Linked DNA regions of Homo sapiens: regions 2 and 3 are each reported to be linked to region 1. The links are microRNA targets in miRTarBase. Many come from high-throughput screens and were not tested one by one. Region 1 holds a microRNA gene; each other region holds the end of a gene's coding sequence.

What was found. The annotated mature microRNA hsa-miR-486-3p reads CGGGGCAGCUCAGUACAGGAU and lies in region 1 at 1,670-1,690, opposite strand. An mRNA with a match to its seed (bases 2 to 7 or 8) in the 3' UTR can be bound and repressed. Matches are read on the target gene's strand: a 7mer-m8 pairs with bases 2 to 8, a 7mer-A1 pairs with bases 2 to 7 and ends in A, and an 8mer does both.
Region 2: miRTarBase lists STRN4 as a target of hsa-miR-486-3p. Seed matches in the 3' UTR shown: 7mer-m8 at 1,381-1,387.
Region 3: the mRNA of MRPL34 is a reported target of hsa-miR-486-3p. Seed matches in the 3' UTR shown: 8mer at 1,003-1,010.

The regions. Positions count from the first base shown.
Region 1 is chr8:41,658,774-41,661,773 of GRCh38, forward strand. It overlaps MIR486-1 (microRNA 486-1), which reads right to left and starts at 1,735; the gene lies at 1,668-1,735. ANK1 (ankyrin 1) reads right to left here. Exons shown (of 43, transcript NM_000037.4): 42 at 2,657-2,791. The coding sequence ends at 2,693. MIR486-2 (microRNA 486-2) reads left to right here and starts at 1,671; the gene lies at 1,671-1,734.
Region 2 is chr19:46,717,977-46,721,316 of GRCh38, reverse strand. STRN4 (striatin 4) reads left to right here. Exons shown (of 18, transcript NM_013403.3): 17 at 546-781; 18 at 979-1,806. The coding sequence ends at 715. It overlaps LOC107987269, which reads left to right and starts at 1,595. Exons shown (of 4, transcript XM_017027568.2): 1 at 1,595-2,671; 2 at 2,815-2,964. The coding sequence starts at 2,254. RefSeq lists an enhancer at 2,908-2,957.
Region 3 is chr19:17,305,651-17,308,990 of GRCh38, forward strand. MRPL34 (mitochondrial ribosomal protein L34) reads left to right here and starts at 222. Exons shown (of 2, transcript NM_023937.4): 1 at 222-307; 2 at 516-1,193. The coding sequence starts at 243. The coding sequence ends at 729. RefSeq lists enhancers at 166-245, 3,216-3,340 and a silencer at 476-535.

The DNA.
Region 1 (3,000 bases):
TCCCAGCTACTCAGGAGGCTGAGGCAGGAAGATCACTTGAACCCGGGAGATGGAGGTTGCAGTGAGCCGAGATAGTGCCACTGCACTCCAGCCTGGGCGACAGAGCGAGACTCCCTCTCAAAATATAAATAAATAAATAAATAAATAAATAAATAAATAAATAGTCGCTGTGAACACGGAATTAGCAAATACTGAACCACTGCTCCTAAGGGAAATACAAGGTTAGGCTCCCATGAGCCTCTGGCCACAATATTTTGGTCAACTGATGAATACATAACTTTGTGTTAAATGCGTTTCTGTTTCAAGACGCCTTATGTAATATATAGGGTTGACTCATTAACACTGACTTCACCACCACAAGCACTCTAACTCATCCCTGAGCAGAGCTTATCTGATGTCCATTCCCTCCTTAAGGAACATCCCAGCCTTCTTGCACTTCGCACCAGACAGCACTTCAGCACTGCCCTCAGGGGCCATTCTAAACAATGAAACCAAAAATGTGAAAAATGTGGCACTACACAAGCTGCAAGGAGGACACTTATTTATAGTATGAGGCACAGAGGCAGAGTGTGGCATTGTTCATCCTCAGCTGGGATTGCACGGGTTGGGCGACTCAAACTTTCTGCCCTTGTGTGTGTGTCCATGAATGAGCCAAAGCACGGTGAGTGCCAGCTTTGGGGCTACAGATAAATGTTAGCGAGTGGACGAATTCGCAAATGCAGAATCCGTGAATGATGAGGATCGACTGTACATGCTTGTCGGGGATGCGGATAGTAAATTAGGAAGCCTTTGGGCCCTCAACCGTCTTCTCTGTAGCCTTTGCCCTGGTTGGGAGGGTAGGGCATTTAATGCTGTCCCCTAACCCTCTGGGACTTTGGCAGGAGCTTTTCTCCGCCTCTCCCTCACCACTGCTCTCGCCCCACCGCCCCACCCCCCTGCCACCCTCACACTTGTCCCTGTGCCTGTCACTGACAGAGGGCCAAGTGCTGTCCCAGAGCCAGGCTGCTCCGTGTTTCTGACACCCATGCTAGTGTGGTCCGGTCCTTAATCACCTGAGGTTGGGGGGCTTCAGCCACATTGCAGATCACTTACGGCAAATTAAAATGAAATTCAAGGCTCCCTCCTTCCCCCTAGCCTGGCTTTCGGGCTGCCTCTCTCCCACTCAGGAGCATCCATAGAGCCTGAGCCAAAGAGAAATTTAAAGCCACAGCCGCCACTGCTACCATAAGAAAAATAAGTCAGAAAAGTGTACTTTTCCTTTCCCTTTGCTGCTTTTAAACATTATTTGCATCTTTGGGTTCTTTCCAGGACCCAACAGCAGCTACTCAGAGTCTTCTAAACCAGCAGCCTAGTGGGACCCCTGGCAGTGCAGGGGTTAACACGGTGACCTCCTTAAGCTGCTGAGGTGTCAGGTCTAATTTTATCCTATAACTGGATCTGCCAGTCCTCTTTTTTGCCCAAGTGCTGAGATATATTGGGAAGCCCAGAGTCAGCACTTTTGGTGGCTCAGGAGGCAGCGGGCCCTGATTTTTGCCGAATGCAGAAAGCTAGAGCCTCCTTGCTGCTCGGTCCCAGAGTCAGGCCCTGGGGTGTGAATGGTAACGGCCTGGTTAGTGCTGCACTGGGGCCACCATGCCCCCTCACCTCCTGCTGACTCCCACCCCGAGGTATCCTGTACTGAGCTGCCCCGAGCTGGGCAGCATGAAGGGCCTCGGGGCAGCTCAGTACAGGATGCCCCAGGGAGGATGGAGATCAGAGCCGGCCGCTGAAGCCCCCAGCACCACACACACCTGCTGGAGATGGTCGCACAGCGTCTTCATGTCCCTTCCTCATGGCACGGCACGGCACGGCATGCCCCTGCTCTGTGGCCACACTGCCCCATGCTCACACACATGCACCACAGCCCAGGCCCCGGCCCCAACCCTGACGGTCTCCTGACTTGCAGAAAGCACGTCGTCCACCCCTTAGGCCTGTCGGCTCAGCCCTTTCCTAGAAAGCAAGGGAGCAACGTGTTTCACAAAACACCAAAGAGAAGCTAAGCCTTGGCCTGGTGAGAACTGTAGCTGGGCTCCAGGTTCAAGAGACAGTCCAGTCCTCAGTCTTGGAGCTCTTATGTTGAAGCATCACAGCCCAGACCAACTCTCCTGTCCTCTTCAATGCCCTGTCCACTGCTTTCTAGATCCCCATTGCTTGGTTTCCAAGATAATATTACCACTTAGATTTACAGAGTGCTTTTACTTTTCAAAGAGCATTTTTTTCTTTCTGGCTTTTTTTTTTCTTTTTTTTGTGATGGGGTCTTGCTCTGTTGCCCAGGCTGGTCTTGAACTCCTGGCCTAAAGCAATCCTTTTGCCTCGACCTCACAAAATGCTGGGATTACAGACATGAGCCACTGTGCCCGGCCCAAAAGGCATTCTTACAAAACCGTGCGGTCCCTGATAAGTGGATATTATTAACTCTGTTTCCTTGATGAGGAAGCTGGGGTTCAGAGCCAACTGTTAGCAGGGTTGGGAAGTGAGAATCTCTGCCTCGAGACACAACAACAAGTTGTTTGTCCCACATCATGCTGGGGTGGCTGGGAGGGGATAGGGTGAGACAGGGAGCAGCCACTCCACTGAAGACCAGGCCATGCAGAGGGGATGAGAAGGGCAGCGTTACCTCCCGAGAGGCTACTCCAAGGAGAGCGGCTCGGGGTCACTGTTTCCCCCTTTTCAGGCTGGCCCGCTTCACTATCTGCGCCCCCTTCCTGCCCTCTATCAGGTCCGGCTGTAGGCCACTCCCTCTCAGCTCCACCTGCAGACAGCAGCAGAGACAGAAAGCAGGACAGATCGCAAAGACGGGCAGAACACAGGCAGAAGATCGAAAGGAGGCCACACGGAGGTGGCAGACACACTGCCCACCAGGGAGAAGAGAGACTGGAGAGAGAGCTCATAAAGAGGTGAGTGGAGGGAGGTGTCATGCAGACGGCCCGGCAGAGCAAGGCAGCAGTGATGGCGCTGGGT
Region 2 (3,340 bases), not on the chromosome of region 1:
TGCCCTGCCTGATCCTCTTGACCCTAAATTAAACTTCTCCTCGCCAGGGCCCTGCCCAGCCTGCCGTCCTCTCCCCTCTTCTCCCCAAGTCCCTGCTAAGGCTCTTGTGGCCACCCCCACCTCCTGCCTCAGGACCTTTCCCGCCTGTCCTTCTGCCTGGAAGGCTCCCTGCATTCCTCCTGGGGCCATTCTGTCCTCACACTGACCGGCTGGGTTGCTTTCTTCTTTCTCTTCCTGTTGCCCAGCTGCAGCGTCAGTGCTGCGGGGCAGGGAGAGTTGCCTGTTTTGTTCACTGCCCCTGCCGCCCTGGGGCTCAGTGTGCAGTAGCTGCTCAAGAAATGCTGGGGGATGAGATGGACTGTGGACAGGAGGGGACCAGGGTTCTCCTTTGGGCGGGCCACAGGAGGTGATGAGCAGAGGGTGAGAGAGGAGAGTTGAGCCCCACTTCCCCTGAGGCCTTTGGACAAGGCCAGGTGAGGGGTTCCAGGGCTGCGTCTGAGCGAGGAGCCCAGTGACCACCCCTTCTGTCCCCGACACATGTGCAGGCCATGACTGCTCCCTGCGTCTCTGGAGCCTGGACAACAAAACGTGCGTGCAGGAGATCACGGCCCACCGCAAGAAGCACGAGGAGGCCATCCACGCTGTTGCCTGCCACCCCAGCAAGGCCCTCATTGCCAGTGCTGGCGCTGATGCCCTGGCCAAGGTCTTCGTATGATGCCCACCTGGCCCTGCCCTGGCCGCCACGCTGGCTGGGGTGTAGGGCCGGGCAGGTGGGGCTGAGGTGAGGGCAGAAACCCCGCATTCTGAGTCTCTGCACGCCCATGCCTAGTACTGCCAGGTGTGCTGAGCCCCGCAGTCCAGTCAGGGGCGTCCTGTGAGAATCACTGGGGGAGCCCTGGGCATGCAGGGGAGGGGTTGAGGCCTTAGAGGCGCCCTAGAGGCGGCGGCTCAGTCTCCCCTCCCTTCTCTTTCCCGCAGGGGACTCCCAGCCTCGCTGGAGGTGCAGAGGCCTGGCCTCTGTCTGTTTGCCATGGAGCCTGGTGGTGCTAACGGCCCTTTCCCCAGGAATCCCTCCCCAACGGCTGCCTTCCCCAAGCATCCAGCCTGGGGATGGGCCCCTTTCAGGAATCACCCCCGAGGATGGCCTCGGGGTTTCCCCCTGTGCCCTGACAGCCGCTCCTGGTATCAGAGCTGCTTTCCAGAGGGCAGCACAGCCAGGGCCGGGTGTCTTTAGGGATCAGTTTTTCCAAGACTCCAGAAGGTGCCAGGTTCTCCCCTTGAGCTCCTGCTCCCCCATCCCCCATCCTCCCAGACCTGGGCAGGAGCTGTGCTGGGAGAAAGGGTGGCAGCCGGGAGCCTCAGAGCTGAGCCCCGGCCTGGCTGCCCCTCCCCTCCGGCCCTCTCCACTGCTTTCCAGACACTAACCAAGGCTTCCAGGCCAGGGATTGCCCAACACTCCTAGGGCAGCCCTCCCAGCGCCCCATGGGGTCGCCCATGGGTAGAGACGGCTTTCTTGTGCCCCTCCCTGGGGCATGGAGGGTGGAGTGGGCCTCGGGTCCCCCTGAACTCCCTGTATATCTGTATAAATAACGGGATTTTCATGGCGCCGCCCCACCCGCATTATCACTGTGTGATGGTCTCAGTCAGTCTCCTCCCTGTCTCCACTCTTTCCCTCTATTTATTTCACTCTCTTGTTTGGTTCTACCCTGCACCCTCGGTCCCCTTCCAGGTTCCTGTTTATAAGCCCCAACCCCTCTGTCCCCATCTTGTATGTGAAAACTTGTCTCAATAAACCCTTTGGAGTAAGATGGGTGACGGTGCCATCTGTTGAGGGCACTGGGGACTTTGGGGGAGGAGTGACCGGCTCTGCCTGGGTTGGGTGGAGTTTGGAGAGAGGGGATATGATGGGTTGGGGTTTTGTGGTAGGGCAGCAGGGGCCGGAGACGGGCCCAGAGCTTGGGTGGGGTGTGGGTGGAGAGAAGTGGAGGCACTGGACCGAATCTCCTTGTGCCCTTTCTGTCCCTAAGTGCTCCCTCCCCAGGGGTAGAGCCCTGGGGAGCAGATACTATGATGACAGTCCAGCTGAAGCCTCAGCCCCGCCTGGGATGTGTGAGGGTGGTGGCGAGGCCAAAGGGCTGGTGCCCAGAGGACGTAAACCCCCTTCCTGTTCCCATCCCAGGCCCACAAGGAGCAGGGAGGGAAAAGGCTGCACCTGCCAGTGGAGGATGATGGCTTTGGGGCGCAGGCTCCTCCATGCTGGGAGGAGGTGCCGCAGGTGCCCGAGCCCTCGTGGCTCATGTCCTGATGCGTCCCTCCTTTCCCTTCTCAGTGGTCCACGTCTACTGTACTGAGTGCTTTACATGGCATTTCACTGGGTCCACAGCCTTAAAAAGAGGGAGCAGGTGTCCACATGCTCCAGATGAGACGGAGGGGACCGCTGCTCCTGTCTCGAGGAGGCTTCCACCACCTACCAGCCAGGCGTCCTCGGTAATCCTAGCACCTCTGCCACAGGGCACTAATGCCCAGTTCCTGGGTTGTAAAGGGCTGTGCCCCAGTCCCCCAGCAGGCCCCAGTGAACATACGAGAAAGGATGGAGGCCGCTGTCTGGACACTCAGGACATGGCAGCGTTTTGCTGGGACAGTCATCTGCCCTTCAGGAAAAAGGGTGCAGGTGGGCAGGAGGCCCTTAGATGACGCCAAGGGGAGCCTTCGTGGGCTCCACGTGGTGTGCTCCCTGCCCATCCCTCTGGGCTCAATGCAGTTCCCCAGGTGGTGGTTTGGGTTTTCACTCCAGCCTCAGACTTCCTTCCTCAGCCCCAGCCCCCGGATGTGGTGACAGAATCGATACTGTACCGACCTCAGCTACCCCCAACGGCCGTACACCAGGAAGAGGGGCTCTTCTGGCAGCCCCCATCCTCAGCCAGCCCTGCCATTTCCAGTCCTGCCAGCATCCCAGCCAGACAGGTGGCCCTTCTCTTAGAGCTCAAACCTAGGCCTTGACTTGTCAATCAAAGGGGTGGGTGGGGCAGCTTCCCTCAAGCAACTTCACTCTGGGATCTTGGGCAAGACGTTTTGCTTCTCTGAGGCTTCAGCTTATTCTGTGTAAACTAAATGGTAGCCACTATTTGATTATTAGCTGGGGAGGAGAGATCAAGCCTGACCCCTGTAGCGGCTGGAGTTTTACAGCAGGGCCCACCCAGCACCCAGTAGGTCCTCACAGATACTTGCTGGGTGACTGAATGGGTGTGCCCACCCATCAAAGCCTGAGTGCTGGAGGTGGCCACCCCTTTCCGCGTATTATCAGAGACAACCACCTCTTACTGAACTGCTGCGTTTCCAG
Region 3 (3,340 bases), not on the chromosome of region 1:
TCAGAAGGCGCCGTTCGCCGGCTACCTGTTGGTGTGTATGCAGAGCATCCCTGTGCCCCGCGGATATAGACTGGCGCGCCTCTGTTGCGCAGGCGCAGAACTACAACTTCAGGGTTTTCCCCAACGGCCTCTTTTTTGCACGTTAGGAGAAACTACATTTCCCATAATCCTTTGTTCCAGGGCTGGAGCGGCTCTGGGCTCCGGAATCGCCCGCAGCCGGTACTGCGGGACCCACTGCGGATATGGCTGTCTTGGCTGGATCCCTGTTGGGCCCCACGAGTAGGTCGGCAGCGTTGCTGGGTGGCAGGTAAGTCCTCAGGGGGACCCTTCCCCAAATCAGGGAATAAGGGCGGCTTCGGAGGCTGGCGCCACTCTTCACTGCCCGCGTGACCTGCCAGTGCCTTGCGCATTTTGCAGCCAGGCTCTGTCTCCGGGAGCCGAGGCTCAGAGAGGTTGAGCGCCAAGGTCACCCAGCGCCCCGTCTGACCTTTCTCGCCGTCCCTCTACCCACGCAGGTGGCTCCAGCCCCGGGCCTGGCTGGGGTTCCCAGACGCCTGGGGCCTCCCCACCCCGCAGCAGGCCCGGGGCAAGGCTCGCGGGAATGAGTATCAGCCGAGCAACATCAAACGCAAGAACAAGCACGGCTGGGTCCGGCGCCTGAGCACGCCGGCCGGCGTGCAGGTCATCCTTCGCCGAATGCTCAAGGGCCGCAAGTCGCTGAGCCATTGAGGATCGCGACGCAGTCGGCGGGACCCTCATGGAAGCATCGCCCTCGCCTCGGACCTTGCCTGGCGCTATTTTTGCAGGGAGCTGGGGAGCAGGAACGCCTCGGACCTGAGTGCTCTCCATATTGTGGGGTTGAAGTCTGGATGGGAGCTTGCCAAGTCCCTTTTTAGGCTTTTTAATTAGGAAGCATTTCGAACCTGCGCAACAGACCAAAGAACAGTACAAAGAACATCCGTGTACCCAGTACCCTGACTACCGACTACCTACAACCCGTCCCTGCCCCATCCTGAGTTCTTTTGAAGCTGATCTCAGGCATCGGATTATTTCTTCTGTAAATATTTCAGAATGTATCTCTCCAAGATGAGAGCTCATTAAAAGACAATTACAAAGCTTATCACATCCAAAAGAATTATCAATAATTTTGAAATATTATTAAACGTGTAATAAATGTTCAAAGTTCCACTTGCCTTATATGTGTCATAACTCTTTTTTTTTTTTGAGACAGTTTCCCTTTTGTTGCCCAGGTTGGAGTGCAATGGGGGGATCTCGGCTCATTAAAACCTCCGCCTTGCGGGTTCAAGCGATTCTCCTGCCTCACCCTCCCGAGTAGCTGGGATTACAGGCATGCGCCACCACGCCCGGCTAATTTTGTATTTTTAGTAGAGATGGGGTTTCTCCATGTTGGTCAGGCTGGTCTCGAGCTCCCGACCTCAGGTGATCCGCCCTCCTCTGCCTCCCAAAGTGCTGGGATTACAGGCATGAACCACTGCGCTCTGTCCCCCAGGCTGGAGTGCAGTGGCACGATCTCGGCTCACTGCAAACTCCCTCTCCTGGGTTCAAGCAATCTCCTGCCTCAGCCTCCCGAATAGCTGGGATTATAGGCGCCCACCACCACACCCGGCTAATTTTTGTATTTTTAGTAGAGACGGGGTTTCAACCATGTTGGCCAGGCTGGTCTCGAACTCCTGACCTCAGGTGATCTGCCTGCCTCGGCCTCCCAAAGTGCTGGGATTACAGGTGTGAGCCGTCATGCCCAGCCTGTGTCATAAATTTTATAGGTCTGGGAAGACTGGTGGAAAACTGTGTGTGTGTGCGGGGGGGTGTTTGTTTTTGAAACAGGGTCTCGCTCTGTCACCCAGGCTGGAGTGCAGTTGTCGGATCCCTGCTTACTGCAACCTCTGCCTCCTGGGTTCAAGCAATTCTGGTGCCTCAGCCTCCCAAGTAGCTGGGATTACAGGTGCATGCCACCACGCCCAGCTAATTTATGTATTTTTAGTAGAGGGGAGTTTCACCATGTTGACCAGGCTGGTCTTGAACTCCAGCCCATAAGGAGTTTGAATCTTCCACTTGTCCCTTGGGGATGTTTGATTTTGAGCAAGAATTTAACACTGTGAGGTGCATTTGTCGCCTATAAAATGCAGTGCTGGTTTCTCCTCTGCTCTGTTGCTGTTGGAGTAATAATACTTAGTAGCTTCCACTTAGCAACTTCACTGTGCAATTGCTGTGTGCTGGGTGCCCATTCTTTGCCCTGGAAGTCAGGAAGGCAGTTTGGACACAGAGGTGTCAGGGCTGGGAGGGGGATTGTGAGGGCTGTAGGACTTCAGGGAAGGTACCTGACTTGCCTTTTTGAAGAATGCAGTCAGGGAAGTCTTGGAGGAAATGGCAAGGTCTGGGAGAGCCCAGACATAGAAGGAATTGGTTAGAGGTGAGGACACAGGTGGGCAATGAAGACCGCAGGTGCCCATAAATGGGGCCAAGGAGGTGGGATTGAATACTAGGGAGTTACGGGAGGTGGTTGAGCAAGACGGTGTCGAGGAGGAGCTAGGGAGTGTTATGGTTCTTATCTTCTAGGGCTGCTTTAAAAACGTAATAAACACAAGAAGATGCCGGCACGATGGCTCCCAGAACTTTGGGAAGCCAAGTCTGGAGGATTGCTTGAGGCCAGAAGTTCGAGACCAGCTTGGGAAACATAGCAAGACCCCTGTGTCTTTTTTTTTTTTTTCTTTTGAGAGGGAGTTTAGCTCTTGTTGCCCAGACTGGACTGTAGTGGCTTAATCTCGGCTGACTGACACCTCCGCCTTCTGGTTTTAAGCGATTCTCCTGCCTCAGCCTCTTGAGTAGCTGGGATGACAGGCGCCCGCCACCACGCCCGGCTAATTTTTGTATTTTAGTAGAGATGGGGTTTCACCATGTTGGCCAGGCTGGTCTCAAACTCCTGACCTCGTGATCCGCCCGCCTCGGCTTCCCAAAGTGCTGGGATTGCTGGGATTACAGGCGTGAGCCACCGTGCCCCGCCTTTTTTTTTTTGAGACAGAGTCTCCCTCTGTCCGCCAGGCTGGAGTGCAGTGGCGCGATCTCAGCTCACTGCAAGATCCGCCTCACTCACGGTTCACGCCGTTGTCCTGCTTCGGCCTCCGGAGTAGCTGGGACTACAGGCGTCCGCCACCACGCCCGGCTAATTTTTTGTATTTTTAGTAGAGACGTGGTTTCACCGTGTTAGCCAGGACGGTCTCGATCTCCTGACCTCGTGATCCACCCGCGTCGGCCTCCCAAAGTGCTGGGATTACAGGCGTGAGCCACTGCGCCCGGCTGGCTTTTTTTTTTTTTTTTTGAG